Regions from separate parts of the Homo sapiens genome. Here region 2 is linked to region 1. The links come from fine-mapping of genetic effects on gene expression. A gene starts in region 1. The other region holds a variant in brackets. All regions are shown on one strand. Distances are from middle to middle.

Region 1 (16,011 bases):
AGATCAAAAACAAGTGAGTGAGTGAGCTAATTTCCTTCCTTCCCTTCTCCTCCTCCCCTTCTCTTCCTCGAATATTTCCTATTTGTTTACAAAGGCCCAAAATATCCCCCCAACATAACAATGGGAAAAAGTCACCTGGCAGATACCATTTAAAGCAAGCGATTGGACGGGCGCGGTGGCTCACGTCTGTAATCTCAACACTTTGGGAGGCCAAGGCAGGCAGATCACTTGAGGTCACAAGTTCAAGACCAGCCTGGCCAACATGGTGAAACTCCATCTCTACTAATAATACAAAAATTGGCCTGGCGTGGTGGTGCGCACCTGTAGTCCCAGCTACTCAGGAGGCTGATGCATGAGAATCGCTTGAACCTGGTAGGCAGAGGTTGCAGTGAGCCAAGATTGCACCATTGCACTCCAGCCTGGGCAACAGTGAGAGACTCTGTCTCAAAAAAAAAAAAAAAAAAAAAAAGGTATAAATCGCCATCATGTGCCCTTGCTAGGATGCATTGACACAGACACACATCGCTTCTGCGTAATCCCTGCCAAAAACACTTAACCTGAGTTTCACTGTGAGGAAACATCAAACAAACCCAAAGTTAAGGGGCATTCTACCAAATGATTGGGCAGTACTCGTTAGAAATGTCGTTGTCAAGAAAAGGTATATAAAAAATGGAGGAAATGATCCAGACTAAAGGAAACTAAGGAGAAATACCTACATGCAAGACAGGATCCAGGACTAAATCCTGGAACAGAAAAGGGACACTAGAGCTGAACAGAGGAAATGTGAATAAGGCTTGCACATTAGTGAATAGTACTGTATCAGTGCGAATGTCCTGATTTTGATCAGGATGTGAATATCTGAGGAAGCTGATGGAGGCTATATGGAACTCTTTGTACTATTTTTGCAACTTTTTTTAAGTCTGAATTTATTTCAAATGTATTTATTGTAAAATTTAATTTATTTAATTTAAAATAAAGAGGCTGGGTGCCGCGACTCATGCCTGTAATCCCAGCACTTTGGGCGGGCAGATCACTTGAGGTCAGGAGTTCGAGACCAGCCTGGCCAAGGTGGGCAGATCACTTTAGGTCAGGAGTTCAAGACCAGCGTGACCAACATAGTGAAACCCAGTCTCTACTAAAAATACAAAAATTAGCCGGGCGTGGTGGCGGGCACCTGTAATCCCAGCTACTCGGGATACTGAGGCAGGAGAATTGCTTGAACCCGGGAGGTGGAGGTTGCAGTGAGCAGAGATTATGCCACTGCACTCCAGCCTGGGTGACAGAGGGAGACTCCATCTCAACAAAAGAAGGAGGAGGAGGAGGAGGAGGAGGAGGAGAAAAAGCAGAGTTGATCAGGAGATAGGAATGTGTCACCGAGCAAAGTGAAGGCTTGGGAACCCGGCTGTGGCACTCTGGGCTCTCCACCTCTCAGCACGGCTGACCTGGTTGCAGATCAGGTCATGTGAAGGAGAATGTGGCCCTACCCCATGTTAACAGGATCCAGCCCAGCTTTCTTCCAGAGAGAAGCAATTCCAGTCCCAAATCCCTGGCTGATGTGCCTAGTTTGGGTCAGGGGTTCCTGCCATCATGGGCAAGGGGCCACCATTGGTCACATCCGACATCCTGTTGTCAGGAACTTGAGGCCGTGGGTTGAGGGAGAACGGGGAAGGCAGATGAACTAATAACGCATTCATGATGAAGTCCCTCCAACCCCACCTGGCTCCAAGCTCCTTAAGGGCAGGAATTATACTTGATTGATCTCTGGGTACTCAACCTCAGTGTGGGCTGGGCACAGAGCAGGCACTGAAGCACTGCCCCAGGAGTTAAAGAAACCTATGACTAATAGAAATTCCTGAGTTTGCTGGATAAGAAAAGAAACAACTTACTGAAACTCCCTCTGCTTGTAAGATAACAAAACTGGCTGAAGTCAGTTGGAACAATATGGCGGACTGGAGTTTGCACAGAACGAGCTTGCTGATGTCATAGCCTCAATTTCTACCGCATGGTTTAGACTAATGCCCCCCGAACTTGCACATGCGCTCCATGAGGGATGAAGAGATAACTGCGCATGCCAGAGGACTTTCCAGACTTCCTATTCCTTTCTACCAGTCACCTACCTACTAATGCCACAGTCTACCCCCTACACCTCTTCTAATAAAGGTATTGACTGCCTTAGGGTGGGCGTGGTGTCTCAGGCCTACAATCCCAGCCCTTTGGGAGGCAGAGGGAAGAGGATTGCTCGATGCCAAGAGTTTGAGACCAGCCTGGGCAACATAGCCAGACCCCATCTCCACACACGCAAAAAGTATGGTCTTAAAGCTAGCACGGGGAGACAGCTTTGAGTTGGACTCCCATCTGCTTGTTAGTCAACTTGCAATAAAAAGCTTTTCTCACAAACCCATGTCCTAGCATTGGCTCCTAGCGCGTCAGACAGCAAAGCTCCTTTTGCTCCATAAAAACACATGCTGGCTCCCTGCCCATGATGGGAAGATGAAAACTTAATTGCAGCTGTGAAGACCCCTTTTCCTGAAGCCCAGCTGCAGAAGCCATCGTCCTCTTTGGCTGCAGAGGAGAGAGGGACATAAGTCTTCAGAGCTCAGCCTGGGTTCAGAGGCTCCTCAGAGACCTGTATCCTGGTGAGCCAAGGAGGAAGCTGACAGCACAGAGGCCAATCAGCAGTTAAGGGCAAGTCATTTGAAGCCCTCCCATTTCCTGCCTCCAACCCCTGCAATTAGGAGAAAACCCTAACTCCTCACTGCAGCCTCCAAGGCCCTGCACGCTCCCTCCCTGAGCTCATCTCCACCACCTCTCTTTTTGGTCACTCGGCTCTAGCCACACCGAGCTCCTTACCATGTGAAATTATTCCCTCAGCTGGGCGTGGTGGCTCACGCCTGTAATCCCAGCACTTTGGGAGGCTGAGGCAGGAGGATCACTTGAGGTCAGGAGTTTGAGACCAGCCTGGCCAACATGGTGAAACCCCGTCTCTACTAAAAATACAAACATTAGCTGGGCATGGTGGTAGGCGCCTGTAATCCCAGCTACTCGGGAGGCTGAGGCAGGAGAATCGCTTGAACCCGGGAGGCAGAGGTTGCAGCGAGCCGAGATCCTGCCACTGCACTCCAGCTTGGGAGACACAGTGAGACTCCATCTCAAAACAAACAAGCAAACAAAAAGTATTCCCTCTTTCTGTCACTGTGTCATAGCATGCTGTTTTATTTTCTTTGTAGCACCCATCACTATCTCAAATTATTTTGCTTACCTGTCTACTGTTAGTCTCCCCACAAAAGGCTGCAAATCTCCGTGAAGTCAGGGCCTGTCTAGTTCATCCCGGGAATCCAACATGTGCCTGATGCCTCATAGGTGTGGTGGATACATACTACTGTGTAATGAACATCCCTAAAGCTTAGTGGCTGATAATGGCAATTCTTTATCTTTCGTAGTTTCTGTGGGTGAGGAATGGGAAGGGCTAGGCTGGGTGGTTCTGACGGGGCTCAGGGTCTCTCATGCAATTACAGTCAGCGGCTGCCGCAGGAGCTGTTGGGGTTTGGCTGGGCATCTCTTGGCCAGGGCCTTGCCATGAGATCTGTGTTTCAGCTTCCTTACAGCATGGCAGCCGCAGGGCAGTTGGACTGCTCACATGGTGGCCAAAAGCTTTCAGAGAGACTGTTCCAGCAATGCTGCAGAAGCTGCATCTCTGTCCGTTATGTCCTAGCGTCGTCAGTTACACGGTGTCATTTCCTGTGTGCTCTATTGATCAGCAAGCCCACCTACATTCAAGGGAAGGGAGCTGCACCCTCCTCTCTTGCTGGGAAAAGGGTCAACGAATTTGGGGCCATATTTTAAAGCTACCACAGTAGGCAACTGACAAATATTTGTGTAAGTGAATGTTGACTAAGTTAATTTGCTACGAGAGGCCAGATGAGGAAAGCTGGCAGCCATCAACACTTGGAGGAGGCTTGCGAAACCACTGGAAACGTCCTTGGCTCATCAGCCTGACAGGTTTTGCGTGTCTCAGTGTCCCCTGAAAAGCCACGACTGGATTCTATTTAGCAAGTGATGACATGGTGCTGCGAGTTTCCCAAAGTGTGGGATGAATGTGGTGTGTGACATGACTTTAGGCGACATGTAGACATGGCGTTAAACGACAATGAATAACATAGATTATGTTAGCCCGTTTTCAATTCTCTTTCACTCCTTCTCATCACATCAGGAAGGAAGTTTCCGCCAAGTGCTGAAGCCTCTTCAATAACGCTCTAATACTTTGCTAATCTCCCTTTGTATCAAAGAAAAAGCAGGCCCAACACCTTGGCAGGCGACAGTATCTACTTTGAATGTGAAAACATTGTTTCATTTTCATGTTTGCTTTTACAATGGTCTACTCATGGCTTAGTGGTTTTCCATTTTAAACGGTGATACGAAGTATCTGTTTAATGTAAATTTAAACCAAAAGAAAAGTATCGGCCGGGCGCGGTGGCTCATGCCTGTAATCCCAGCACTTTGGGAGGCCGAGGCGGGCGGATCACGAGGTCAGGAGATCGAGACCATCCCGGCTAAAACGGTGAAACCCTGTCTCTACTAAAAATACAAAAAATTAGCCGGGCGTAGTGGCGGGCGCCTGTAGTCCCAGCTACTTGGGAGGCTGAGGCAGGAGAATGGCGTGAACCCGGGAGGCGGAGCTTGCAGTGAGCCGAGATCCCGCCACTGCACTCCAGCCTGGGCGACAGAGCGAGACTCCGTCTCAAAAAAAAAAAAAAAAAAAAAAAGAAAAGTATCAAGTTCATGAAAGGTCACACCGTGCAGATATGGTAAAGGCTGAGAAGACCTACCCAAGAGAAGTTTGGGGAAACCTGAAAATAATGAAACCAACACCCCAGGAATGACAGATGACCTGAATTCTACACACTGTGGGTGACCAGGGGGACTGACATTCGAGCTACTCTTAGAGAATTTCTTTCTTTGGTTTTTTTCGAGACGCAGTCTCACTCTGTTGCCCAGGCTGGAATGCAGCGGCGTGATCTCAGCTCACTCCAGCCACCGTCTCCCGCACTCAAGCAATCCTCCCACCTCAGCCTCCTGAGTAGCTGGGACTACAGGTGTGTGCCACCACGCCTGGCTAATTTTTTCTATTTTTGGCAGAGACAGGGTTTTGCCATGTTGCCCACTCAGGCTGGTCTTGAACTCCTGGGCTCATGTGATCTGCCTGCCTCAGCCTCCCGAAGTGCTGGGATTACAGGTGTGAAGTTTCAAATTAACCGTTTTCTTTAGAGACAAGGTCACAATCCGTAGCCCAGCCTGGAGTGCAGTCGTGCCATCCTACCTCACTGCAGCCTGCAACGCCTGGGCTCAAGCCATCCTCCCACTTCATCCTCCTGAGTAGCTGGGGACTACACGTGAACACCACCACAACTAGCTAATTTTTTGCAGAGACAGGATCTCACCATGTTGCCCAGACTGGTCTTGAACTCCTGGGCTCAAGCAATCTGCCCACTTCAGCCTCCCAAAGTGATGGGATTACAGGTGTAAGCCACCACGCCTGGCCATATTGTGTATTTTTTTTTTTTTTTTTTTTGAGACAGTCTCACTCTGTCGCCCAGGCTGGAGTGCAATGGTGTGATCTTGGCTCACTGCAACCTCCGCCTCCTGGGTTCAAGCAATTCTCCTGCCTCAGTCTCCCAAGTAGCTGGGATTACAGACGTGTACCACCACACCTGGCTAATTTCTTATTTTTTTAGTACAGACGGGGTTTCACCATGTTGGTCAGGCTGGTCTTGAACTCCTGACCTCAAGTATTCACCCGCCTTGGCCTCCCAAAGTCCTGGGATTACAGGCGTGAGCTACCGCACCCAGCCCAGATTGTGTATTTCTAATAAGCTTCCAGGTCATGCTGATGCTGCTGGTGTGGGGACACACTGAGAAAGTAGCAGGTTTTTGTTGTTGTTGTTGTTGTTGAGACAGAGTCTCATCTGTTGCCCAGGCTGGAGTGCAGTGGTGCGATCTCAGCTCGCTGAAACCTCCACCTCTCGGGTTCGAGTGATTCTCCTGCCTCAGCCTCCCGAGTAGCTGGATTGCAGGCGCCTGCCACCACACCCGGCTAATTTTTTGTATTTTTAGTAGAGACGGGGCTTCACTGTGCTGGCCAGGCTGATTTTGAACTCCTGATCTCGTGATCCACCTGCCTCAGCCTCACAAAGTGCTGGGATTACAGGCGTGAGCCACCGCGCCCGGCTGAAAGTCAGGTTCTTGAAAAAAATCTGGTGTGTGGCCGGGCACAGTGGCTCACACCTGTAATCCCAACACTTTGGGAGGTCGAGGTGGGTGGATCACTTGAGGTCAGGAGTTCGAAACCAGCCTGGCCAACATGGTGAAACCCAGTCTCTACTGAAAATACAAAGATTAGCCAGGCATGGTGGTGAGCGCCTGTAATCCCAGCTACTGGGGACGCTAAGGCAGGAGAATCGCTTGAACCCGGGAGGCAGAGGTTGCAGTGAGCTGAGATCGCGCCACTGCACTCCAGCCTGGGCAACAAAGCGAGACTCTGCCTCAAAAGAAAAAAAAAAAAAAAAAAAAGAATCTGGTGTGCTACTACTGCGCATGTCCTCCCAACTCTGGTGCTAGTGACATCCCATTAGTAACAATATAGGCCATGGCTGAAGGATTCACACCCAGAAAATCAGCAGACGCTACAAAACAGGGTTCAATTTGTTTTATTAATTGTCTTGTGGTCTTAAGAAAGTGATAGAAAAATAAGTAAAATTTACAATAAACTATATACACACACATAAATACATACTAACGAATACATTCTCTTCCAGAGAAGCTGCTGTTAAATATTTACCACATCCCACTGGCTGTTCAGAAAAGTTTAACAACCATGTAAATACATGTGTCCTGGATTAGGAACTGGCAAACTTTTTCTGTAAAGACACAAACAGTAAATGCTTTAAGTTTTGTTGGCCAAAAAGTTTCTGTTAAAAAAAAAAATTAGCTCTAATGTCACAGCTCAAAAGTAGCCAGAGACAATATATAAATGAGTAAGCATTGGCTGTTTTCAAATAAAACTTTATTTACAGACACTGAAATGTAAATTTCACACCATTTTCACATCAATAGATATTCTTCTTTTGGTATTTTTTTTCCCAACCAGCTAAAAATGTAAAAAAATCGGCAGGCGCGGTGGCTCATGCCTGTAATCCCAGCACTTTGGGAAGCCAAGGTGGGCAGAGCACCTGAGGTCAGAAGTTCGAGAGCAGCCTGGCCAACATGGTGAAACCCTGTCTCCACAAAAAAACACAAAAACTAGCTGGGTATAGTAGTACACAGCTGTAATGCCAGCTACTCAGAAGGCTGAGGCAGGAGAATCACTTCAACCCGGGAGGCGGAGGTTGTAGTGAGTCGAAATTGTACCACTGCACTCCAGCGTGGGCAACAGAGTTAGATTCCAAAATAAATAAAAGAAAGGGAAGGGAAGGAAAGGGAGGGAGGGAACAAGGGGAGGGAGGGAGGAACCATTTTTAGCTCATAGACTATATCTGGCCCACAGATTGTAGTACTCCTCGCTCTCTTTTAGATCATACTCAAAAAGGTGCAGAGCTGGGACTCCAACCTAGGTAAGACCTGAAACACAAGGTCCCAGGCAGAGAGACGACCAAGTGCAAAGACCCTTAGGTTGGAATGAGCTTGTGCTCCAAGGATGGAAAGACCCACGCGGCTGAACAGCAATGAGCAAGGGGGAACAAAGCAGGGCATGGGAGCCAAGTTCAGGGGACTTCATAAACCTGAATACAAGGTTTAGGATATTCCAAGTTCAGCTGAGAGCCCTCTGGAAGCACTGAGTGGCCTTGATATTTCCATTTTCAGTCTATGTGTATATATATATATATACACACACACACATATATATGCACACGTGTATGTATATATCTGTGTGTATATATATAGATAAAAACAAAGTATATATGTGTATATATATGGGGGAGGTTCTTGCTGTGTCCCTAGGATGGTGGCAGTGGCACTGTCACAGCTCACTGCAGCCTCAACCTCCTGGGCTCAAGTGATCCTCCTGCCTCAGCCTCCCAAGTAGCTGGGACCACAGGCTTGCACCACCACATCCGGGTAATTTTTGTGTTTTTGTAGAGATGGGGTCTTGCTCTGTTGCCTAGGCTGGTTTTGAACTGAGCTCAAGCGATCCTCCCACCTTGGCCTCCCGCAGTGCTGGGATTCCAGGGGTGAGCTACCGCGTCTGGCTGATTATATTTTTCAAAGACTCCTCAGCCTGCGGCCATGTGCAGAACCAAGCCTGGGGCTTCAAAAGAATGCAGCAAAGGATAGCAGAGAGGCCGCTGTCCAAGTCTTCCATGAGATAGATACGGACGATGTGGCCTAGGGTGGTGACAGCCTGGGGGTGACAATGGGTGGCTCTGGGCTGTATTTTGGAGGCAAGGCCAAGTCCGAAGGATTTGCTGAGAGATTCATAGCAGGTGAGTAGAGAACAACTCCAGGGTGTCCAGGACCCTCCCATGAGCCTTGTGAGTGAGGCTGATGGTCCCATTTTACAGATGGGTAACCTGGAGGCGCGCGGTTCCCCTCCCATGAGCTTGTGAAGTTGATTCTCGTAGCTCCGAGGGGTCGAGTCCCTCGCGCCGGCTCCCCCCGCCCCCAACGCCAGCACCTGGGTCCCAGGGCTGCGCCCCCTCCTAGAGCCTGACCACGACCCCCGCCCCCGCCGATGAGCTCTGATTTACCCCCCAATCCCAAGCACCCCGCGCCCTCTCGCCACTTCCCCCGTGGTTTCAGGAAAGCGTTTGCCGAAGGTACCGGCTCCTAAGGCGGGTAAACTGAGGTAGGAGGCAACGCGTCTCCCGCCCGCGCGTGTGGGAAGCCCCCGCAGGCCCGGCGATTTACCTGGAGGAAGGCCTCGGCTGCGGCGCCCTGAACTGCTCACTGTCCCACCGCGGGGGAACCCCGGAAAACGAGTGGGAAAACGAGTGCTTCAAGACCCGCCTCGGGCCGCGCGGTGCCGCCTCACTAAACCTTAGTCGCTGCCACTGCGCATGCGCCCTTCCCGGCCCTTTCCCCGCCCTCTCAGTCGGCGGGAAAAGGAGGCGGGAGATGGCTCGTGCGCAGGTGCGTGCTAGGAGCGCGGCTCGTCAGGGCAGGCTGCTCTGCAGGGCAGGCGATCCGGGGCTCGCCTCCGCGCGGCATTCAGCGCGCAGGCGCGAGCTGGCCGCCTCACACGGAGTCGGCTTGTTAAGTGCGCACGCGCGGGAGTTTCTGGCAGAAAGCAGGCGAGCCTGGGCCGGCGCGGGGCCTTGTGGGAGGGCTTAAGGAAGTAAAATGGCGGACCTGGCGAACGAAGGTAGGGGAGGCGCCGTTGGGGACCGGCTGGCGGCCGGGGAACGGGCGGCGGGAGGACTAGGGGCCACAAGCCCTTGGGGGGAGCACCGCAGAGTGCAAGGGTTTCGTCCGCTCCAGGCTAGCGCCGTGGCGGGCCTTGCAGCCGCCCCCTATTGCGTCCCCTCAGGCCGGGCTCACCGGCCCGGCCCATCACTCCCGGCAACCCCAGCCACTGCAGCCGTCTGGCTAGAGGAGCCGGGTGGCCATCGGGATCGCAGCCCTAAGGCCCCTCTGCGTCGCAGCCAAGCTCGGGGCTGAAGGGGGCGGGAGGCGCGGCCCCAGTGCTTCGGCCACGGATGTAAATAGACCTTAGGGCCTGGTTGTGGCCCGGAGCGCGCCACGCTCCCTCCCCGCCCCCTCGTCCTCCGCCACCCGGCATCTCCCCTTCCCCGGCCTGGCTGCCTATCTCCTAAGCCCGTGAGGCCCTCGTCCTCCGCGGGCCAGCCGCACACCGCGGACGGAGGAAGCCCAGGCCGTTTTCACCCCGTCCCCGCCCCGAACTTCGGCCCCCACTTCCCGCCAGTTCCCCCCGGATCCTTCGGGGCGCTTCGTCTCCCCCTCATTTAGGCCCCGCCGCAGGATCTGGGCCGCCGAAAACCCTGGCTGCTCTTTGGCCCTTTTTGCTGCACTTCCAGACAAGAGACCGTGCGAGTCCCTCCTCTGTGGAGCGCTGACAGCCCACCTGAGTGTTTTTGACAAGGTTACACTTCCAGATCCCCCGAGAAGGCACCATAAGGCTGATGTCTGCTTCCATCCATAGTCGTGTTGCCATCGCTGTAGCTTCAAGACTTCTGAGGCCTATTTTTAGCTCCCCCCCTTTTCTAGTTGCACAAATGCAGGCAAGCTCTCTACCTGTCTGGCTCTGATTCCCCCATTCGGTGCTCCCTGTGACTGGAGGGTTTTCCCTACCGAATTGCAGTAATGAATGAATGATGATAGGAAGTGCTTGGTCTTGTGGAGCATTTAGGGTAGTTACCAGGTGTGGTGCAAAGTCTTGACATACTGTTTTCCCTGGTAGGAGGTATAGATACTGTTAGCCCCATTCACTTGATGAGGAGACTGAGTCAACGTGGTTAAGTCGCTTATCCAAGGCGTGTCACACAGCTGGGAAGGAGCAGGGATGTGAACCAAGATGGCCTGGCTTCAGATGCCAGACCACGGGTGCTCAGTCCCTGCAGATTCTGATTCTGTGTGGTGTTGGGCGGGCGCTGGGCATCTGTACAGGCAGCAGCACAGGTTCTCTCCCTGATTCTTGGCCATTTTATTCTATTTTATTTTTTGGGACGGAGTCTAGCTCTGTAGCCAGGCTGGAGTGCAGTGGCGCCATCTCGGCTCACTGCAATCTCCGCCTCCCGGGTTCAGGTGATTCTCCTGCCTCAGCCTCCCGAGTAGCTGGGATTACAGGCGCGCACCACCACACCCAGCTAATTTTTGTGTTTTTAGTACAGACGGGGTTTCACCATGTTGGCCAGGATGGTCTCCATCTCCTGACCTCGTGATCTGCCCGCCTCGGCCTCCCAAAGTGCTGGGATTACAGGCGTGAGCCACCGCACCCGGCTGCTACATCTCTTTTTTTAAGATAAAGGAGCCCATGGAGGGTTGCAGCATTCCAACTCATGAGATCTAGTTACAGAGGGACTGGGTAAGTGGGAATCAGTATGACATATTTTATGTATTTACATCCTGAGCCCACATAGCTTCTTGAACTCAGGACTCATGTCCAGCATCACATTTCGACATCTCCATTTGGATGTGTCATAGGTAAGTCTAGAGCGTTTCCAAAACAAAATCCTTATCTCCCCCACTACACCTGCCCATCCCATGGTCTTTCACCCATTGTAGTTAGTTAGGCAGGTCCATTCTTTGAATTCTTCTGGCCCCAAACCTTGAAGTCACCCCTGGTTTCCCTCTTTCTCATACTGCACAGCAAATACTATCATTTCTACCTTAAAATTATTCCCAAAGGGGGACCACCACTTCTCCCCACCAACACCGTCAATGCTTAGCCCCCGTTCCCTCCACCCTTACCCATCTGAGAACTTCTCAGCCCATAGTGGGCCCCAATATGTCCCTGTCCTTCTCTCTCGCCACTCTCTGCTGCCTTGCTCTGTGCTAACTACTCTGGCTTTTTCAGTTTTCCTTGAATGTTGCATACACTCCCCGCTTTTAGCCTTTTCTCCTGCTGATTCCTCTAACTGAAACAGTTTTCCCCCAGATACCCCCATGGCTCACTTCTTCTGGTTTTTACTCATATATGTTACTTTATTAATGAGAGCTTCTCTGGCCACCTATTTCAAATTAAATCCATGTTCTCTATTCCGTTCACCCTGCTTGATTTTCCTGTATAGCTCTTAACAATCCGGCATGCTAGATATTACATGCATGTTTGCCCCATGTAAGCTCCATGAGGTCAGGGATTTTTATGTTATGATCACTGATTGCCCCCTTGCATCTAGAACGGTGCCTGGCACAGAGTAGGTACACAGGAAATATTGGTTGAATGAATGAATGCATGAATGAATGAATTCACCAGTGAGGACCCTGTTGTGAGGAATACATTTGAGCACAAAGGGGAAATTATGGCTTGCCCTTTTCCAGGGGATACTGTTTCTAGCATATGCTGTCCACATGAGCTATTGGTTGTAAATGGGATAGTTGAACTGGTAAGGGCCAAAGAGAGAAATGGAATGTTTTGAACTTCACTTTTTTTCCCTAGTAAGTGCCACACTCACCTAGCACGTTGTCCCTGACGCTAGTTCTGGGATAACTGTCCTCAGGAAATCAAATCTTGGTGGACTTTGTGCCTCATATATCCCTGCCGTCCTTCAATCAGTCATTGTGTGTTTCTTGAACACTCCATTTCTGGTTTTGGCTTGTACAGCCTGCCAGGATGTTTAATTTGTTATTCACTGTGTAAAGTGGGGCCTCCTTGCCTGTGCCTTTTGAAGCTTTAGGGGCTGCCCCATGGTCACGTGTTTGTTCTTGCTGTTTAAGCTCTAGTCAAATGCCCTCTTGGCTTCTGCCTTTCCAGACTGAGATCATAAGTTGCTCCACCCTCACACCCAGTCCCTCCTCCATCCATTTGCCATCTCTCTTCTCTGGGCCAGTCCCACCTCTGTGTCAGGCTGAGCAGCGGCTGTCCACCCGGCTGGGCATCAGTACCCCCTGGGGAACTTTCCTGAAACCGCAGATGCTCAGTCGCCACGCCCTGCAGATTCCGATTCTCTCTGGTGTTGGGTGGGTTCTGGGCCTCTGTACAGGTGGCAGCACAGGTGATTCTCATGTGCAGGCAGGGTTGAGACCCGCTGGTTTGAGTAGTAGAGGGTAGGTGTCCTCTGCTTGTATACGAGGAAATGTTTTCTGTTGTGTAAAGCATCTTGTTGGCCCTCGTCACCATGGTGAACGCCTCATGGATGGTGACAGCAACTCTCACAGCCCTTCCTGTGGTCTGGGACTTTTAAAGTCCACCTGAGTGCTTTTCCTCTCAGACAGTGTGTGTGCATGTTTCACCCTTGCATCCAGGGATAAGTCTCCCCTGCTTGGCATTTCCCCATTGATACCTCCCAGACTCATTACTCATCCTGTCTCTAGGGTTATGCTGCATTGTAGGCTGACATCAGGATTTGAAGGCAGAGTTTTGTCCCTGGCAAAGGTAAAGAAGACTGGAAAGAGGGTGAGCAAAGCACATTTGAACTCCAGGGAATCTTGGATTCTAGATCCTGACATGAAAGGCCCTGTTGGCCTGTGGACATGCGTGGTGGAAACCCGGGAGACAGTGTGAAGCAGGGCTCTCACCTTTGTGTGGTGCAGTTGACGTTTTGATGGCTCTCTTTGGCGGGAGGGGCTGTCCTGTGCGTTGCAGGATCCTTAGCAGCACGGTAGCATCCTTGGACCTACTCACTAGATGCCAGTAGCACACACCTCCCCTCACTCGCGGGGTCGTCATGACAACAGAAGAAGTCTCCTGACACAGCCCCTGGGGAGTGGGGGTGGGGAGGCTGCAGAATCGCCCCCAGGTGAGAGACTCACTGGTATCGATGGTGGGGACACAGGCTTTGGTCCTCAGAGAGCTGGGTTTGTGTTTTAACTCCGCTGTCCACTCTGAGTCATTTGGGGCAAATTTCTTAACCTCTTTGAGCCCCCCGTTTCCACACCAATAAAATGGGAATAATGGTAACCACACCCACCTCGTGGTTGCTGTGAGCATTGAAGGAATGAGTGCACATACATTGTTTAGCACCAGTCTCTGCTCATAGTAATAAACACTCAGGTCACTGTTTTTACTACAGTGCACTCTGCTCTGGACACATTCAGCTGAAGGGTTCAGCAAAGTCTCCATTGTGTGGGTGAACCTGCCCCACTCAGAGTTGGCCCTGGGCTGAGCCCCTGGCAGAAGACCAGCAGGGCCTGGGCTCTGGGTCCTCCTAAGTTCTGTCCTGCCTGTCACTTAGTGATCTCAGGGATCCCAGCCTGAGCACTACAGACATCTGGGGCCAGGTAATTCTCTGTTGTGGGCGATTGCGCTGTGCACTGTAGGATCTTAATGAGGATCCCTGGCCTCTACCCCACTAAATGCTAATAGCACATCCCCCTCCTCATCCCCGCCAGTCATGACAGTGGAAATGTCTCCGTCCCAGTGTCCCCCCGGGGGCAGAGTTGCTTTCAGTTGAGAACTACTGATTTAAAAGCCTGACCAGGTATGAGTCGAGAGATTTTTGAGGGTGGTTTGGCTTCTCTCAGCTTGCACCTTGTTGACTTAAAACCTAGCCCCTGAGAGGGTGAGATGCAACTGAATTTTTATTGGTTAGCTAGAACTGAAATAGTTGGAACCTATCTTAAACAACTTTTGGAAAGTTTCTCGTGAATTTATTATAAAAACTAATTCTGGGATTTTTGCTTAGAGCAGAATGTGTGCTTTCACCTCCACTGTGCCTCCTGTATCTGTAGCAGAAGGGGCCTGATGGTACCCAAGGGGTATCCAGGCTGCAAAATCTTTATACTCTTTGAAGAGACTTTCCATTTTGCCCAGGATCCTGCGTATAGACAGAAAAGCCCTCACTGGGCTTCTGCAAAATGTTTCAAACAAGCCTTCAGCCTGCCTCTCCGTTTACCAGAAAATGGGATTTTCCCGGCACCCTCGTGCATTCATTAGGTGTTAGGGTCAACCTGGGTCTGGTGTGTGCTCCTCCTCTGAGGTGGTCAGAGTGAGCAGAAGCAGCAGGAATGGGGTGAGCTTCGAGTGGCATTTGGAGGAGCTTGGGGTGGAGAAGGGGGGTTGAATTCTGCCCTCCTACGTGAGTTCAGACAGTGAATAGGCCTGGGTGTAGTGGGAGACGAAGGCCATTTGGGGAAAGTTGAGATGCATTTGGGGAATCTGAGAAGAGAGCGCCGTTCCTCAAAACTTACCAGAGGACCACAAAACTGCCGAGATGGCTGGTATTGGCTTGGCTGGGCATTTGGTAGCTCTCCATGGTACTTTGAAGCAATCGTGAGGCAGTTGGGCTTGCATCATTATCTATTCAGGGTCTGGTGGTGATGTTTTCTTTGTTTTAGGGGGTCCTGGTGGAGCGGTGTTCTGTTTGACTCTGCCCTACGCAGTAGAGAATAACGTGGCCTGGGACATCAGGGTAAAGCTCCTCACCACCACCTTCCACATGTCCACAGTTTGCTTCCTCCTCAGTAGTCTTGGCACTTAGAGCTGCCACACAGCACTAGCTATGGATCTCAGCCCTGGATGGGCTTCACACTTGTTTAAGGAGGTTGTCAGGGAAAATCAAAACTGCTGCCTGGGCTGCACCATTGGAGATGGTTCCAGGAGTTCTAGGGTGTCTGTGGTTTTAAAGAGCTCCACAGATGTTTAACAACATGAAGCCAGAGTTGAAAACCACAGGCAGAAGTTGCAAACTTGCCTGAAGGGCAAGCAGACATATTTAATTTGGCCCATTTAGGTTTTTGTTTGTAATTAGGAGCCAACACTTAAAATTCTGAGATTTCAGAGGGGAAAAAAATTGTATTTCTGATTTCTCTCAGAAAACAGCAACCACCCTTGGCCTGCATTCTTGCACAGCAGTGATTTTTCAGTGCTAAGGAACAGCTGCGCCTGTGGATAGATTAGATTGGATATTGTGGTCTCCGCCATGTTACTTGGGGCCTAGCCCACTTCCTTCTCTTCCAGTGCCTGTGACCTTGGTTGGTATTTGGGTTTCAATCCTATTATACAGACTCCTAGACTCTGCATTCTCTACACTTAGAGTGCTCTTTAGCTAGAACCTTAGCATAAAGCACCTCATGGTCTGTAATTTAGGATTTAGTGTCCTTGGAATGCTAGAACTCAGATAGCATATGGCAGCAGTTCTCAAAGATGGTCCGGGGCCCTGCAGTCCCCAAGACCTTTTCAAGGGGACTGCAAGTTCAAAACTATTTCATAACAACACAAAGACACTATCTGCTCTTTTTTCACTCTTATTCACTTGAAAATGGACAGTGGAGTTTTTTTCCAGAGGTTATTGGATGTGTGATATGCCAACAGATGAACTATAGAAGCAGATAAGAGAATTCAGGCCGGGCACAGTGGCAAACACCTGCAGTCCCAGCTACTTGGGAGGCTGAGGTGGGAGG
Region 2 (16,011 bases), 42 kb after region 1:
GAGTCAACCGTAAGAGTTGGAGGCTTCGGTACCACACTTTGAGTAATGGATAGAACATCTAGACAAGATCAGTAAGGAAACAGGACTTCAGCAACACAAAAACCAAGCAGACCTAACAGACATATAGGTCACCCCACCCAAACAGTGGGGTACACAGCCTTCTCAAGTGCACATGGAAAATTCTCCATGGGGGGCCATTTGTTAGGTCACCAAACACATCTCAAATTTTAAAGGATCAAAATATGGAGTATGTGCTCCAACCACAAGGAGATAAAATTGGAAATCAAAAACGGAAACTAGGAAATTGACACATGTGGAAATTAACCTAGATAACCACTGAGCCAGAGAGTTAGGTGTGGAGATGTCAGGAGAAACATCCCGTGCAGGGGTGAGGAGACACGAGGGAGCTCGGGGACCAGTTCCTTCTGTAAGGCCGGACTCAGGTCTTCGGCTTCTCCGTGGCCTGCAAGGGGCCTGGGATGCAGTGTCTTTTGTTGAACAAATGCTAAACGGGCTTCTACTGTGAGGTCCAGTTCCTTCCTAAGTCTAGTGGAGTCCCTGACACAACTCCCAGGATCAGAATAAGCCACAGAGAAAGAGTATAAGGGGCCTGGAGGTCACCTCACCAAGGGGTTCATTCTCGCTTGAGGGAAAAGGAGGGCGTCACTGGATGAGAGAGCAGGTCGTCTACAGAGGCCAGAGAGGGTATGGCCATCTCCTGGTCCCAGAAGTCATTTAGGAAGGGACAGATCCCCCAGGACCAGGGAGGACACCGTGTAAGGGTTTTGGTACAGTTGAAAGGCTCGTTGGATTAAAAGGGGAGAGAAAAGTCTAGAGCCACAGGATGGGACTTGGGGGTGGGGATGTCCTGGGCCTGCTGTTAGGAATGGATGGGAGGACTGGTGAGGCCAGGGAAGCCAGAGGTGAGGCGAGCAGTGCGGTGTCCGAGGAGATCGGGCTGTGCAGAGGCTGCTGGCCTCAGACAGTGACCTGCACAGAGCATTTGGAGGCCAAAGCCAGCCTACAGGGCTCTGGAGGGCATGGGTTACCCAGAGGGCAAGGAGGCTGTGTCAGGTGTTGTTTCTCACAGCTGCCTGTGCTGGGAGGCTGATGTAAGGGCCCGTCGAGGGCAGTAGCTGCCCCAGGCATGAGATGCCCAGGCTTGGCTGGATGAGCAAAGGTTTTGGCTGCCCGGGTGGGCAGATGCTGCTTCTCTGTACTTCTGTCACCTTTGCTAAGTATGAGGGCAAGCGATAGCTGGAGCCTGTACCCACCCCACAGATGTCACCCAAGAAAAGGGATGACAAGGTGGTGACAGCTCAGCACTATCAGATGCAACCCCAGGCTCTGGCATTTCTAGAAAGGTTCCCAGTCCAGGTCCCTCGCCTCCTGGCTGCACCCAGGACTCACTCCACACCCCTGACTCCCTATTCATGCCTGCCTTGAGCTCTAAAGCCCTGCCCCCAGCGTAGCCTCCAGATTTTACATCGGTTGGGAGTTTGATCTCATCAGGTGTGGGTCACGAGCATTATAATCATCTGCTCCCAGCGTGCAGGGCACTGGGCTGAGCACCTTACCTGCCCTGCCTGTCACCTCACGCATCCCTGTTTTCCAGGTGAGGAGACCGAAGGCTGGGCAAGGTAAGGTTTCACCCGTAGAAAATGGCAGAGCCGGAATACACTGAGTTCTTCCGGCCTTCAAGAGGCAGCAGGGACCAGGCAGCCTCTGCACCCCTCGTGCTTTTGGCCTGGCCGGAGTTGGTACTGACTCTAGGGCCTGGCTGCTTGATGGCATTGCGTTTTGGACTCAGTGGTATTTTCACAATTGCCCCAGTGACTAATAGAACCCACTGTTGTGTTACAAGGATTTTGTGTTTCCCACACACTTTGATGATGTCATCTCGTGGGGATAGTGATAATCAGCCCTCACTCGTACAGTCCCTTGGGAGCATTTCCAAAGCCCCCTCAGAACACGGGCCTCAAGCAAGAAGCCCAGGCTTGCTTTTCCCACACAAACCCATGTTGTCAGCTCACACGGGAGGAGAAAGTCCAGGGTAGCTTTTTTTCTGACCGTCGTGAACGAGCTATGTGACTTCAAGTCAACTTCCTACCTTCTCTGGGCTCTCACTGCCACAAGCTCCAGGCCTGGGCCTGTAAGCTAAGATGATGTTTACATTTTTAAAGGATTATAAAAGCAAAAACAAGAATATATGACAGAGACCAAATGTGGCCCACAAAGCCAGCAGTACCGACAGTCTGGCCCTTTATGGGAAAATGCATCGCCCTGACTTGAGGGGGGTCTGCCTTGGCTCCTGTGCTCCTCAGTTTTATTTATTGCAGTTTGCTTTCCCAGGCCACTCTGCAGTTTGCAAAGCACTTTCACATGCATCACCTCCCCTAAGCCCCAGCAGCTCGTCGAGGCAGGCGGGCCTCATTTGGCTAAACTTGACCTCTGAGGAGCATTTTAGAAAATAAGAAAATTGGCTTTTCTGCTTGCTCTTGCAGGGAGCGCGCCAGGAGGAGCGGCCCTCACTCATCGGTGCGCTTTGGGCTGCTAAATTCTGAGACAGGACATAAATGAGGGATTGTGTTGGGGGAGAGGATAAACACTCCTCATGTTAAGTTTTGAGTTTGTTTGTGTTTTGAGATGAGATGTGTCCTTCAGGCTGGGGTGCAGTGGCATGGTCATAGCTCACTGCAGCCTCAGACCCCGGGCTCAGGTGATCCTCCTGCCTCAGCCTCCCTGGGAGCTGGGGCTACAGGCATTCACCCCCCTGCCCAGCTGATTTTTATGTGGTTGGGTTTTTTATAAAGACAGAGTCTCACCATGTTTCCCAGGCTGGTCTCAAACTCCTGGGCTCAAGCGATCCTTCTGCCTCAGCTTCCCAAAGTGCTGGGATTACAGGCATGAGCCACTGCACCCAGTCCATTTTAAGTCCTTTTGTTTTTTTTTTTTTTTTTTTTGAGACAGAGTCTCGCTGTGTCGCCCAGGCTGGAGTGCAGTGGTGTGATCTCGGCTCACTGCAAGCTCCGCCTACCGGGCTCAAGCGATTCTTGTGCCTCAGCCTGTAGCTGAGATTACAGGCGTGCACCACCACGCCCAGCTACTTTTTTTTGTATTTTTAGTGGAGACAGGGTTTCACCATGTTGGTCAGGCTGGTCATGAGCCCATTTTAAGTCTTGGTTGCTGGTTGTTCACACTCTAAAGCTAAAGTTTGTGGAATAGGGAATTCTTCAGGAGCCTTCCCTCAGCCTGTGACTGGGCTTTGTCTTTGATGGTTCTGTTCTAAACACTTCGCAAGTGGGCTTTGGTCCAAAACATCCAAGCTCTTGCTTGCTCTGGGAATAACAGCCGACCCTGAGACAAGCATGTGCATGGTAGAATGTTCCAGGGCAAGGAAGGGAAATCGCTCCTATCCGGTGTGATGTGACCATTTTACACAAGTCCGCTGCCCTCAAGGGTGGAGAGGGTCGCTTTTCAGCTCTTGGCAGAATGAACGGGGGCCAGATGAGGTTCGGCTGTGTTTGAGTTTAGGGGTGGCAGGCCAGTTAGCGTAACCTGTGGAGAAACAAGAAACTGATCTGGGTGCTGCGGATGCTTTCCCAGCCACTGAGAGGATTCCTTGGCATGTGTTTGTGAAGCTGGGTGCAGAGGTTCATCGGGGGGATGTTTGAGCTTTAGGCTAAAATCCTGGCTCTCATTCGGGTGCTGGGCTCTGGGAACTAGCTGCCCGTGGTGCATGTTGGGATATTTGTTACGGCCCCGAGAGTTGCTCGGCTGCCGTGAGCCTGATGCCCTCTGACCCCGGCTGTGTGCTCCTTGTTTCAGAGGTCAGCTGGCGGCTCCAGTCCTGAAGGCGGAGAAGGTAAGGAGCTCTCTAACACCTTTGACCATCTTCAGTTTTAAAGACAGAAGCAACCTGATTTTTCTCCTCCTCTTCTCATCATTTTCTGTAGATTCTGACAGAGAAGATGGAAATTACTGCCCTCCTGTCAAGCGAGAAAGAACATCCTCTTTAACCCAGTTCCCACCCTCACAGTCAGGTAAAATATGCAAACTTACGGAATGGTGAAAGCGTTTATGCTTACAAACCCGCCATTCCCCTCAGTGCCGCGCATCCGTCTGCTGTGTCCTTCCTGCCCAGCTCCGGTTAGAGTCGATCTGAGGCTCGGGCTCTGTCAGGAGTGAGGTGAGAGCTTGTCCAGAGTGCAGCATCAGGGGTCCTCGTCTCGAATCAGTGACACTGACGGCATGGTGAGACTTGGTGGCCTGAGGAAGACTGTGAAGAGATCGTCCCTCTGAAATGGAGGAAAGGGGTTGACTACTGAGAGCCCTGTTGGGGCCTCTGCCTGTTAATTACATCTCCTCTTTCCAAGGCTGGACACAGACTGGGGGTTTAGGGGTGGGGTGTTCTCCCAACCCCTCAGCTGCATGCCCAGCACGGGCAGTCCAGTGCAGTAGCCCAGACACACACACGCATGTACACACAAGCATGCACACACACACGGTAACCAGCAAGCCAGGAGGCCCCAGCAGAGGCCCGTGTGTGATGCTGTGAACTCCCAGAGGAGAGGAGCTTGCGGGGGCCTGGAAGGGTGGGCCAGGCTCGGACTGTGGAGCAGGGCAGGCTAAAGGGCTTGAAGGCCCTGGACGTGAGGCCTGGTCTGAGCACAGGCCTGGAGGTCGGCCTGGGGACTCATGCAGGCTGGTACAGGAGAGAGGTTCCTGAGGCAGATAATGCCGTCAGCACTACTTAATATAACACTCAGAAAGCCCGGCCTCCTGCCATGGGCACAACTCTGCAGATTTGAGGGTAAATGCCACTGCAGGGCTATTCTCTCGTCCCCGTCTTGACTTCCCACTCTGGCATTGTCTCGTGGCCTCTGTCTTAGCTGTCTGTAGTGCCAACTTGGACATACATGAGTGTTTAGACAGGTTCTCTGGTTACCCAACTGAAATCCATTCCTGGAAAGTTCATGTAAATCATTTTACAGTCCTGAACCTTCAGGATGTCAAGTTGTTTCTGCTTACAGAAGTCACGCATGCGTTACAGGAACACACAGCGTAGGAAGCCAGGGTCCTTCCCAAGTCACCCCTCCACACCCTTGTTTTCATGCCCTTTTCCCATCACGTTGGTTTTGGACATGGCCGCGTCTTTTTGCACAGCTGCATTAGGTTTTCCAGTGCTATTACACTGTCATCTGCTGACTGGATATTGCGGAACTGTCCAGATGGCTTGCAGTCCAGGCTGCAGTTGGCATCCTTTTAATTTAAGGATCTTTGCACCTGTGGATAGGTGTTCTGTGGAATGAGGGAGCTCCACTTCCTGCTCGTTGATTTTATTCCTTCCCCCTCACTGCCCACTGCTGAACCATGCTTGCTGTATCGAAAACCAGCATAGAGAAGAGGAGGTGTTTGGGCTGTGAATGTAGGCTAAAGAGGCGAGGGACCACCATTCTTCTCCCCGGCCCTCTTCAAATCACCTCCCGTCCAGCGCAGCAGCCCCCAAGAGACACTCAGCTCTCCAGGGTAACTGGAGGCGTGAGGGGCACCAATAATTTGAACAGTGTTGTCTTTGGTTCCATTCTGCGTAGAGTGAGTTCTTCCCCTACGAATTCCACTTCATTTGTGGAAACCTGTTGGCTGGCCCACACCCTGGGAAGCAGTTGCCCTGGTGAAGGAAGATCTTAGGTGGGGGAGGGGGAACCCCATGGACAAGCCTTGACAGGTGAGGAGGAGTCAGGGCCTCCAATGTGGCCTGGAGCATCTGATATCTCCCCTGCCGGCTGCCCCTGCAGAGGTGCAGGGACAAGGGGGTGCCCCCAGTTGACCAGAGTTGACTGTAGTCATCAGACAGATCAAGGCCGTCGGGCTGGAGACCCTCGTAGTGCTGTAAAGAGTCTTGGGGTTTGCTGTTCTCGGGAAAGACTGAATGCCCTGTTTGCGTGCTGTTCCGTCTCCTCCCGTGGGACGTGAGAATCCACCCCTCAGGTGGGAGAGGTGATCTCTGAGCGTCCACCCCACCCATTCATGCTGTTTTTCCTCTTGTTCCCTCCCCCGCCTGCACCTCCTTGTCAACAGTTTCAAAAAACAATGTTTTTATGCCATCAAGCTTCTGCGAGCCATCTGCAGGCAATTCCGACTCAGAGCCAAGTGAGCCCCGGCCCCTCTGCCTTCCCGCCCGGCCTGGGGGTTCTCCTGGGAGGAAAAGCAATTGGTGTGGGAAAATCAGATCTTCAGCGGGCATTTAAAGTCAGTTCTTCTTCAGCTGTTAAAATTTTTCCCCCAACTCTTCAGCTCATAGTCTGGGGATCTGGCGTGAGATGAGGCTTCATAAGCCCTCATGTTTGTTTCTGCAAGCAGGGCCTGGTTGCATGGAGCTCTAAGTCCTCTAAAAACAACCTGTGAAGAAATGTATCACTCATTTTTCAAAATTTTATACAAGTAATGCATTCATAATTGGGGTTTTTTGGTTTTTTAGACAGACTTTCACTCTTTTTGCCCAGGCTGGAGTGCAGTGGTGTGATCTCAACTCACTGCAACCTCCGCCTCCCGGGTTCAAGTGATTCTGCTGCCTCAGCTTCCCGAGTAGCTGGGATTACAGGCGCACACCACAATGCCGGGGTAATTTTGTATTTTTTTAGTAGAGACAGGGTTTCACCTGTTGGCCAGGCTGGTCTCCAACTCCTGACCTCAGGTGATGCACCTGTCTCGGCCTCCCAAAGTACTGGAATTACAGGCATGAGCCACCGCACCTGGCCCATAATTGTTTTTTCTTTAAAGTAAATCAGAAATATTTCAACTAAAAAGAATCCCTGCCCCTTCCCCACTCACCCTGCCATCCCAAAGGTAACGCCTGTGAAGTTGGTGAATTTCTAGACCTCTTTTTTGTGCATTCTCACATTAATTTTGCTCAGACCTACCTAGATAAATATGTTTAATCACAGCTTCAAAACTTTTTGTGTGTTTTGGAGACGGAGTTTCACTCTTGTCCCCCAGGCTGGAGTGCAATGGGGCGATCTTGGCTCACTGCAACCTCTGCCTCCTGGGTTCAAGCAATTCTCCTGCCTCAGCCTCCCAAGTAGCTGGGATTACAGGCATGTGCCACCATGCCCAGCTAATGTTTTGTATTTTTAGTAGAGACGAGGGTTTCACCGTGTTGGCCAGGCTGGTCTCGAACTCCTGACCTCAAGCGAGCTTCCCGCCTCAGCCTCCCAAAGTGCTAGGATTACAGGCGTGAGCCACCACGTCTGGCCCCCAGCTTTAAAATTTTAAGGAAAGCCGCTCCCCCTTTCTGAAGAATATGGAGCCTGCCTTTTTGGTCTTTCACTGGAGAACCAACTCCAAGGTTTCCTGAAAGTTTCTCCCACGTGGCTGAAATTCCTCATAAAAGATTTAACAAGCGAGTTTAACAACCTGAATTCTGTAACCCAACCTACCATATATAAATTCATTGCCGACTTCAAAAGCATTGTGAGATAAGTTAGCTGCTGGCGTGATGTCCGTGTCAAGGGAAGAGGTGGGTTCTTATAACTCTCAGCATTGAGTTGATGGCCCCGTTTCAACAAGGCATTTTGACTCTAAAAGCAAACTGTTTTGAGCCGACCACCTGGTCTCATCCTGCAGAGGGGCTTGGTGTTTCAGGGTCCTCAGGAAGGGCACGATGTTGGTTATTCCTGGGGTGTCGCTTAGCAGGTGGTGGTCTGGATGGGGGCACAGAGCCTGCCACGGTGAGGCAGGTTCTGCTTTAGGTGATCAGTTACTAAAGCCGTGTGTCTGGACCCATTTGTGCTGCTGAGCTCTGTTACAAATCTCATGATCGCTTCTGAGGTCTGTGAGCAACGGCCTCCCTCCTGTCTCTCTCCCCACAGACCTTTCCCCTCCAGCCTCGAGCAGGGCAGCTGTTTCGCAGGCCCCGACGCGGCATGGTTTAAAGCCCCAGTGCCCTCACGCATGAAAAGGCAGTCATATCAGCCACACATCAGTTCTGCAAACCCAACTTCACATCCTTGTCTGCCTGCCTTCTGTTTTTTAGCTTTAATTTTGAAAAGCTTTAACACTTACAGAAGAATTTCTCTGTCCCTTTTGTCTGAAGACCCCATTTAGCTTTCTCCAGTCAGCTCCATGAGTCCATTAGAAAAAAGGACTGAGACCCTGGTCCTACCACACATACCTCCACTTTTATCGGGAACAGGTCTTCAGGCTTCCCTTGACTTTCATGACCTTGAGGATTACAGGTCAGCTGTTGGGTAGAAGTGTCTCAGTTGGGGCCTGTCCAGTATGTCCTGGTGGTGAGACCCAGGTGTGGCATCTTGGATGAGAATGTCACAGAAGCCATGCACAGTACTCACTTGTCCCCTTACCAGCACGGGGTGGCCGTGCTCCTCGATCAGGGTGCTGTCTGCCAGGTTTCACCACTGTAAAGCTACTTTCCCCTTTGTGCTGGATGGTTTCTGAGAGACACTTTAGACTCTGGGACTGTGTGTACCTCATCACACTCCTGCCCTCCAGTGTTCGCGCCCAGTGATGTCTTTAGAGTGATGTTTCCCGCTGACGACTGCCCCATGGGATTTTCTTCCTTTTTTTTTTTTTTTTTTTTTTTTTTTTGGAGACAGAGTCTTGCTCTGTTGCCCAGGCTGGAGTGCAGTGGCACAATCTTGGCTCACTGCACCCTCTGCCTCCTGAGCTCAAGAGATTCTCAAGCCTCAGCCTCTCAAGTAGCTGGGATTACAGGCACTCACCACCCGTGGGATACTCTGAGCACCATCCCTGCCGCGTTGATTAGTGGTGTTCACTGGAAGGAGGAGCTTGCCCTTCTCCCCACGTGCTTGTTCCTTGATCGATTGTGTCAACATAGACAGGCGAGCTTCTGTTGGCATCAGTGGGTGACCGTCTATGGTTACTGGTTTTTATTTAATGTTCAGGTTGTCCCAGATTTGGCCAGTGGAAGCCCTGTCAGGCAGGTCCCCGTTGTTCATTTGAGCACTGCCCTTACTTTGTCACAACAAGAGCCTCCCGGCTCAGCCTCTTTTCTCATCCCAGTCCTGGAATCTGCATTTCTCAGAGGCACGCTGGTTCTTCAGGGAACATGGTCTTTAGAAACCAAGGTCTGAAATCACTCCGTGCGGTACTGCGATCTCACTGACTCAGGTGTAGCCCTGCTCCCGGCCCTCCGCGGACAGAGCTGGGGACACACCTTTGTCCACATGATCTCTTACTCTCTGCCTGCCTGCCTGCCTGCATGTGGAGATGACGGACAGAGCTGGGGACACACCTTTGTCCACATGATCTCTTACTTTCTGCCTGCCTGCCTGCATGTGGAGATGACGCCAGGGGCACGTGGGTGCCTCCCTTGGTATATTCCTCCCTCTTCTGGCACTAAGAAACCGGCACCCTCTGTCCTCTGTGCATCAGGCATCACTCCCTGCCCACCGCATGGCTGAGCCTCCTCCCCACCCTGCACCAGCGCCGTCCACGCACAGACCCCAGCTCCAGCCAGGCTGCCTTCTCAGCATTTGATGCACACAGTCTCATTCCCATCCCTTCCCTGGTTAAATCGGGG[C/T]TCCCTGGGGGGCAAGCATGGCTTCCCACAGACATCACTTGGGGCTCTCTGAGGCAGGCGAAAAGCACCCTCAGACAGGGAGCCTGCCAGCTTCCCAGGAGGGCAAAGGCTGCCGGCGGGAGGGGTCCTCTTCCTCTCTGGAGTGATGCGCATCCCTCAGAGACTGGTGCAGCATCCTCTACAGGCCCACACCCTTTGGGTATGTGGCAGGCGTCGGGCTCTGGCCATGATTCAGCAGCTTGTGTTGCGACCTGTGTTGCAGAAGAAAATTTCTGGAAGGAATGAGAAGAGACCACCCTTGTTTTCGTGGAGCAGGGCCTGTGACAGGGACCTCCAGATTTTGGCTACCCCTGGAGCACGCCTTGTCTGTCTGCAGCTCTGGAGAGGGCCACGCTCTGGGCCTAGCACTAGTGGCAGGTCGGTGGCAGGGATTATCCAAGTCTCCTGCTTCCGCTTGGCAGCTCGGGCCAGCCCCCAGGCTCCCCTCAGCGTTAGCGCCAGCGCTGCACGGAGCGGAGTGTGGAAGGGCAGTAGTCAGTCTGTGACCAAAACATCAGCGTGGAGAGCCAGCTTGAAGAGCTTGCTAAAAACTATCTAAATTGTGAATTTGACCTTTTAAAAATGTATCTAAATTGCCAGTCGTCTTCTGCATAGCTCCGTGCTTTGGAAATGTAATTGAGTGTTTCCTTCGGAAAAGGAACATCTGGCGGCTCACCCCCGCATCCTGCAGGATCTGGCTCTCCTGAGTTTGTTTTTTTATGACCAGTCTGTTACGGGAGAGGCACCAGCTCTGCTAACACAGGCTGCCAGAAGCCCCTGGGGCTGGACTCCCTCATACAACTATTATAGTAAGAAGGGTTGCTGCAATCCTCTTGCTGCCCAGGCACAGCGGCGCCTCCGGGGCACAGCGGGAGAGGGGTCTTCCTTGGCCTGCTGAATCTTGATTTGGAGTCTGAAAATTTGGGCTGACAAGGTGTTTTGGGTTTTGTTGTCATCGTTTTAGTGTACAATTGAGTGGTTTTAGTACATCCACAGAGTTGTGCGACCATCACGTGATTAATTTTAGAACATTTCCATCATCCCAAAAAGAAACCTCATCCCTGTTAGTCACAGCCTGCCCCCAACCCCCTCCCTTGAGCCCTGGTAACCGCTCAGCTCCTTTCTGCTTAGTCTGGCATTTCACAGAAATGCAATCAGACAGCATGAGGGGGTGTTTTTCTTTTGATTTACACCTTTAATTTCTTCCAACAATGTTTTTGTTTTGTTTGAGACAAGGTCTCACTCTGTCGCCCAGGCTGGAGTGCAGTGGTACAGTCGTAACTCAACTGTAACCTCAAGCTCCCAGGCTCAAGTGATCTTCCCACCTCTGCCTCCTGAGTAGCTGGGACTACAGGCATGTACCACCATGCCTGGCTAAGTTTTTAATTTTTTGTAGAGTTAGGGTCTTGCAGTGTTGCCCAGGCTGATCTCAAACTCTTGGGCTCATGCAGTCCTCCTGCCTCAGCCTCCCAAAGCACTGGGATTACAGGCATGAGCCACTGCACCCGGCCCTAACATTGTTTTATAGTTTTATCTTGTGAAATGTATTCCCAAGTATTTTATTCCTTTTGGTGTTATTGTAAATGGAATTATTTTCTTAATTTTGCTTTTGGGTCATTCACTGCTAGTGTTAGAAACACAATCGATTTTTGTATATTGATCTTGTGTCCTGTAGCTTGACAAGGGGGTGAAGCTTAGCACAAACGCAGGGCTACCTCCAGGAGCCATAATGCCACAGTCTCTGTGCCTTGCCCAGGAACAGGCTTGCCTGCCTGAGTCACAGGCCTTTTATGACAATCCTTCCTGTTGTGGATCAGATTAGACCACCATCCCCACTCCCTGTATGGGCACAGTTGCCAAGACACACAGATGAAGGGGTCCATGTGGACAGGTGGCTGGGCGAGGCTGGGCTCTCGAGCCATCCCAGGAGCTCGTGGGCATTCACCTTTCCCTCTAGTTTTGTGAATTTGTCAGCCCGGACTCTGGCCCAGGGGGAGCTGGCCTCCTCCACGGTGGCCAGGAGTGCCCCCTCACTGAGACGGGAAGCTCCGCAGGCACATCTGGAAAGGGGAGGCAGGCTCACTGTGTGCCACCTTTGACCTTTTCATCACAAAAACCTGTCTCACTTCCCAGACATCTGTAGTGGTGCCAAGGTTCTTCCTGGCCACAGCCGCATCCTCTGACAGACAAGCCTTCTAGGAAAGGGAAGTGGGGCCTGAGCGCCTGTGTTCCGTGGCTCCCTGACATTCTCCAGAGCCAGGTACAGGGCCGCTGAGCAGCTCGGCTCCTGAGCCTGCAGCAGGTCATAGACAGCTGGGAGGGCGGCTGACGCCCCACCTGCCCCCATGGTCAGCAGCTGGCCCAAGAGCCATCGTTCCTCCTGCCCTTGTCTCTCCCCTCCTCCAGGCGCCTTCCAGGCCTGCTGATCGGACGAGACTTCTGTTGTAATTTGGAAATGTTCTCCCTGGTTCTCCAGGCCCGAAGTCACTGAGGCCAAGACCATAGTCCTCTCCTGCCCTTGCCCCCCAGGCCCAGCCCCAGCCCAGGCAGGCCTGCTGTTGATATTTTGTCTTGTGCTTTTAGAGGAAAGGAGCAGTGGCTTCCGGTTGAAGCCACCAACGCTGATCCACGGCCAAGCCCCCAGCGCAGGTAGGTCGTCTACCTCCCTGGGGCGGGGGGTGGCTCTCTGACGTTTTTCAGACCTCTGCTAGGCCACACCAGGGCACCGCGGGCTCAGCCTGCTTTCTAGAAAGATCACTTGTAACTTGACCCACGAGCCCTGGAAAGTTCCTTTAAAGAGAGGCTGTCTGAGCAGGGAGGTTGGGACCCCTGACTGTGAGCGTCGTGTGTTCAGAAAAGTGGGCAGTGGTGGCACGGGAGCAGGCTAGGCGGGGTGCATCGGGCGGGCTCCATGCCCAGCAGTAGCGCACTTGGTTCAGCCTGTCTGTCCTTCATGTTCTGGCCCCCACATACCACAGTGTTCGCCCCAGTTAGCAGGGTGGCTGCATTCCAGCGGCGCGCTGCTAGTGAGCCGGCTGCTAGTGAGGCTGCCGGGGATGCTGCACAGGGCAGGGCACATGCAAGGGTCCTTGTCCCATCTGCCTTTGGCAGAGGGACTTCCTCAGCATGGCTGTTTTGAAAAACAGGTGCAAAATGTGCCTGTACGTGACCCCACACCGAGTCCTGAGCCTCCAGGTAGCTGCCTGTGAATGCACTGCTCTCCTCCCACAGTCTCCACTTGACTGTTGAGTCTGCCGGCGCCCCGCCACGTTACTGTGCTAACTGGATTAATTCACAGGCGTCGGTCACTGGGAGTTTCATGTAATCACATGTAAAAATAACAGTAGCCAGATCTCCTGGCCAGCTGTTAAAAAAAGACCTCAAGTTTTTAAAAAAGTGCTTCCCTGCAAAGTCTAGCCTGCAAGGGGCATGAAATGGGATGCCAGGGGTCAGTCTCTGAAGCGCCTGGGGGCAGGCAGGGGTCCACGGGCACTGGGAAGGCCGCCTTCTGTTCCTAGGTCTGCCAAGCCAGAAGCCCAAGGAGCAGCAGCGGAGCGTGCTTCGCCCGGCAGTGTTACAAGCTCCGCAGCCAAAGGCGCTGTCCCAGACTGGTAAGAAACAGCAGCCCTGGCGCCCAGGCCCAGACGGCAGGGTAGAGCGTTCCCGAAGTCGCACCCGGGACAGCAGTGTTGCGACAGAGGTGACTGCTGAATGCACCAGAAATACAGAGAGATCAGGGAAGATGATCCTTTAAATCACCCCCCAGCCGTCTCCAGCCCCAAGCCTCCTGAGCCCTGGCAACGGAGAAGGGAGAGGCGGCTCCACAGCTTCCTCACAGCTCTCGGCTGAGTGTGACTGTGTGGGTGAAACCTGCTTTGTTCATTCACTGTCTTCATAAAAGCAGGCCGGCTCCTGGGAATGAGATTTATCCCTGTGTGTTTGCAGATAGAATTTCAGCCTCAATTTTCACAGGTTATCTTTAAAAACTTGAAAGGTCATTTTATTTATTTATTTATTTATTTATTTTGGAGATGGGGTCTTGCTCTGTCACCCAGACTGGAGTGCACTGGTGCAATCATAGCTCACTGCAGCCTCGAACTCCTGGGCTCAAGCGATCCTCCCACCTCAGCCTCCCAAGTAGCTGGGACCACAAGTGTGCACCACCACACCCAGCCAGTTTGTTTTATCTTATTTTAGAAACGAGGACTTGCTGTGTTGCCCAGGCTGGTCTCAAACTCCTGGCCCCAAGCATTCTCCCCGCTTCAGCCTCCCAAAGCACTGGGACCACAGACATGAGCCACTGTGCCCGGCAGGTTTCTCTTTTTTGTTTGTTTCTCTTGTTTTTTTTTAAATCCAAGAATTTTGGCTCTTTGTAGAGATACCAGGTCCTTCCTTAAAAAGGAGACATGTGCTGTGGGCTTTACCATGGGAGGGGCCCTAGACTAGACGTGGCCCAGCCCCTCAGCTATGTGAGTGGGGGTGGGAGGGCCGCCAAGCACCTGTGATTCCCCACTCTCCTTCCCTCCCACAGTCCCCAGCAGTGGCACCAACGGGGTCAGCCTCCCAGCAGACTGCACGGGGGCAGTGCCCGCAGCATCCCCTGACACTGCTGCATGGAGAAGTCCTTCCGAAGCTGCCGATGAGGTGTGTGCACTTGAGGTCAGTGGGTCCTGAGGCAGGGAAGCGCTGCATGCTAGGCCCCTTGGGAGCGGGAGGGCAGCCTTCCCAGCATGCTGTGGAGTCCACACGCTGTCACCTGTTCCAAGCAGTTTCCACGTGGGCCTATTGTAAGGCTCTCTGGATTTGCTCAGTAGGCTCTAAATAACAGTACCTGACAAACCAGATCTAGATTCCCAAGGGTGGTCTTGCTGGTCAGGCAGAAGAAGAGTGTCTCCCAAGCAAGCTCTGCCGGAAGGACCTGTTGCCCAGAGTTCTGCCGGAAGGGCCTGTTACCCAAGGCTGACCGCCACATGTCTCACGGGAGTGATCCTTGAGGGAGGACCTGAACCACTGCACTCTGAGGAGTCACTAGGGCCCGAGGAACGGCTGTCACTGATGGGTGTCTTGCAATGTTTAACATGAGGAATGTCTCCCCTCTCTGTGTCCACACCCAAACCACCCCTCAGAGACTCCTATCTGTGTGGTTCCAGTTGAAAATTTTTCTTTGGGAGTCATCTCAGAAATAGTTTGTTTAGGCCGGACACGGTAGCTCACACCTGCAATCTCAGCACTTTGGGAGGCCGCGGCAGGTGGATTGCTTGAGGCCAGGAGTTCAAAACCACCCTGGGCAACATAGCAAGACTCTGTCTCTACAAAAAATACACAGATTAGCCAGGCATGGTAGCATGTACCTGTAGTCCCAGCTACTCAGGATGCTGAGGCTGGAGGATTGCTTGAGCCCGGGAAGGGGAGGCTGCTGTGAGCCGAGGTCACACCACTGCATTCCAGCCTGGACGACAGAGCCAGACCCTGCCTTAAAAAAAGAAATAGTTCCATTTAAGCGGGGGTATGGTTTGGATTATATGGGCCAAAAGCTTTGTGTTTCACAGCCACTGTGAAATAAGGGCCTTTGATGAAGAGCCTCCTTTGAAGTTGGCAGAGATGGGTTTGAAGTCAGAATTAGGGTAACACCATGTGGTATCTTCTGTGTAAAAGCCAGATTGGATCTTTGTGTTTATTTTCCGCTCTGTGTCCATGGCCTGCAGTTTTATACCCTCCATCCCCAGTAGATGTTCTGGCTCAAAGGGTGAAAATGGCTGTCCACAATTAAATTTGAAAACATCCTCACGCCCTTTTTCAAACGAGTTTGCTGAATTGGAAATAGGGATCATTTCCACCGCATTCTGCGGCTTGGAAGCTTTGACTGCTGAGGTCTCCTGAGCAGATCAGGTGTGCAGTTCTGAGTTGGAGAAGGACTTAGAAGTGACCCAGCCCGTCCCGCCATCTCCCAGTGTCTCTGATTGTCCCCGATGGTGAGTGCACAGGCTGACCTGGTAGCACCCGCTACCGAGAGCTTGTTCCTCACTGGAGAGGCCTTGCTGTGTCCCATCCCAGGGGACGGAGTCCGTCTTCCTGCCGGTTCCAGCCCCTTCTCAGCAGTGCACACAGCTTGTTCCCAAATGGTTGAGCTCAGAAGTTGTGATGTGCTGGCTGCCATTCCCAGCTCCTGCGTCTGGCTCCAAAGCCACTGCTCCATGTGGGTCTGGGGTGGAGCCATGCGGCCACACCCACGCTGCCCTCTGACCACACCCAGTACTGTTGAGATTCGCCAGGCTCGCTGTGTGTATCCTTCTCTGGCCCTACAGCAGGAGTCCGAGCTTTTCCAAGCCGCCCATGAACATGGCACACACTGCTCATCGGGAACGTGAGCTATGAGGCATCTCCTCTAAGGAGGGCTTAGATGTTGGGGG

The links. PIP is the estimated chance that this variant, and not a neighbour inherited with it, causes the effect. A credible set is the group of variants that fine-mapping cannot tell apart.
Region 2: its variant is the best candidate, but not a certain one, in a credible set for the expression of RANBP3 in whole blood (TOPMed, PIP 0.52).

The regions. Positions count from the first base shown.
Region 1 is chr19:5,971,405-5,987,415 of GRCh38, reverse strand. RANBP3 (RAN binding protein 3) reads left to right here and starts at 9,276. Exons shown (of 17, transcript NM_007322.3): 1 at 9,276-9,355. The coding sequence starts at 9,334. It overlaps RANBP3-DT (RANBP3 divergent transcript), which reads right to left and starts at 9,013. Exons shown (of 4, transcript NR_046376.1): 1 at 8,902-9,013. RefSeq lists silencers at 8,883-8,932, 8,983-9,152, 9,383-9,492.
Region 2 is chr19:5,929,653-5,945,663 of GRCh38, reverse strand. RANBP3 (RAN binding protein 3) reads left to right here. Exons shown (of 17, transcript NM_007322.3): 4 at 3,829-3,865; 5 at 3,957-4,043; 6 at 12,185-12,250; 7 at 13,120-13,212; 8 at 14,133-14,260. Among named protein-coding and RNA genes, the nearest start is that of CAPS, 23 kb to the right of the region's middle. RefSeq lists an enhancer at 546-1,186 and a silencer at 5,710-5,890. The variant C/T (reference allele first, on the strand shown) is at 9,563.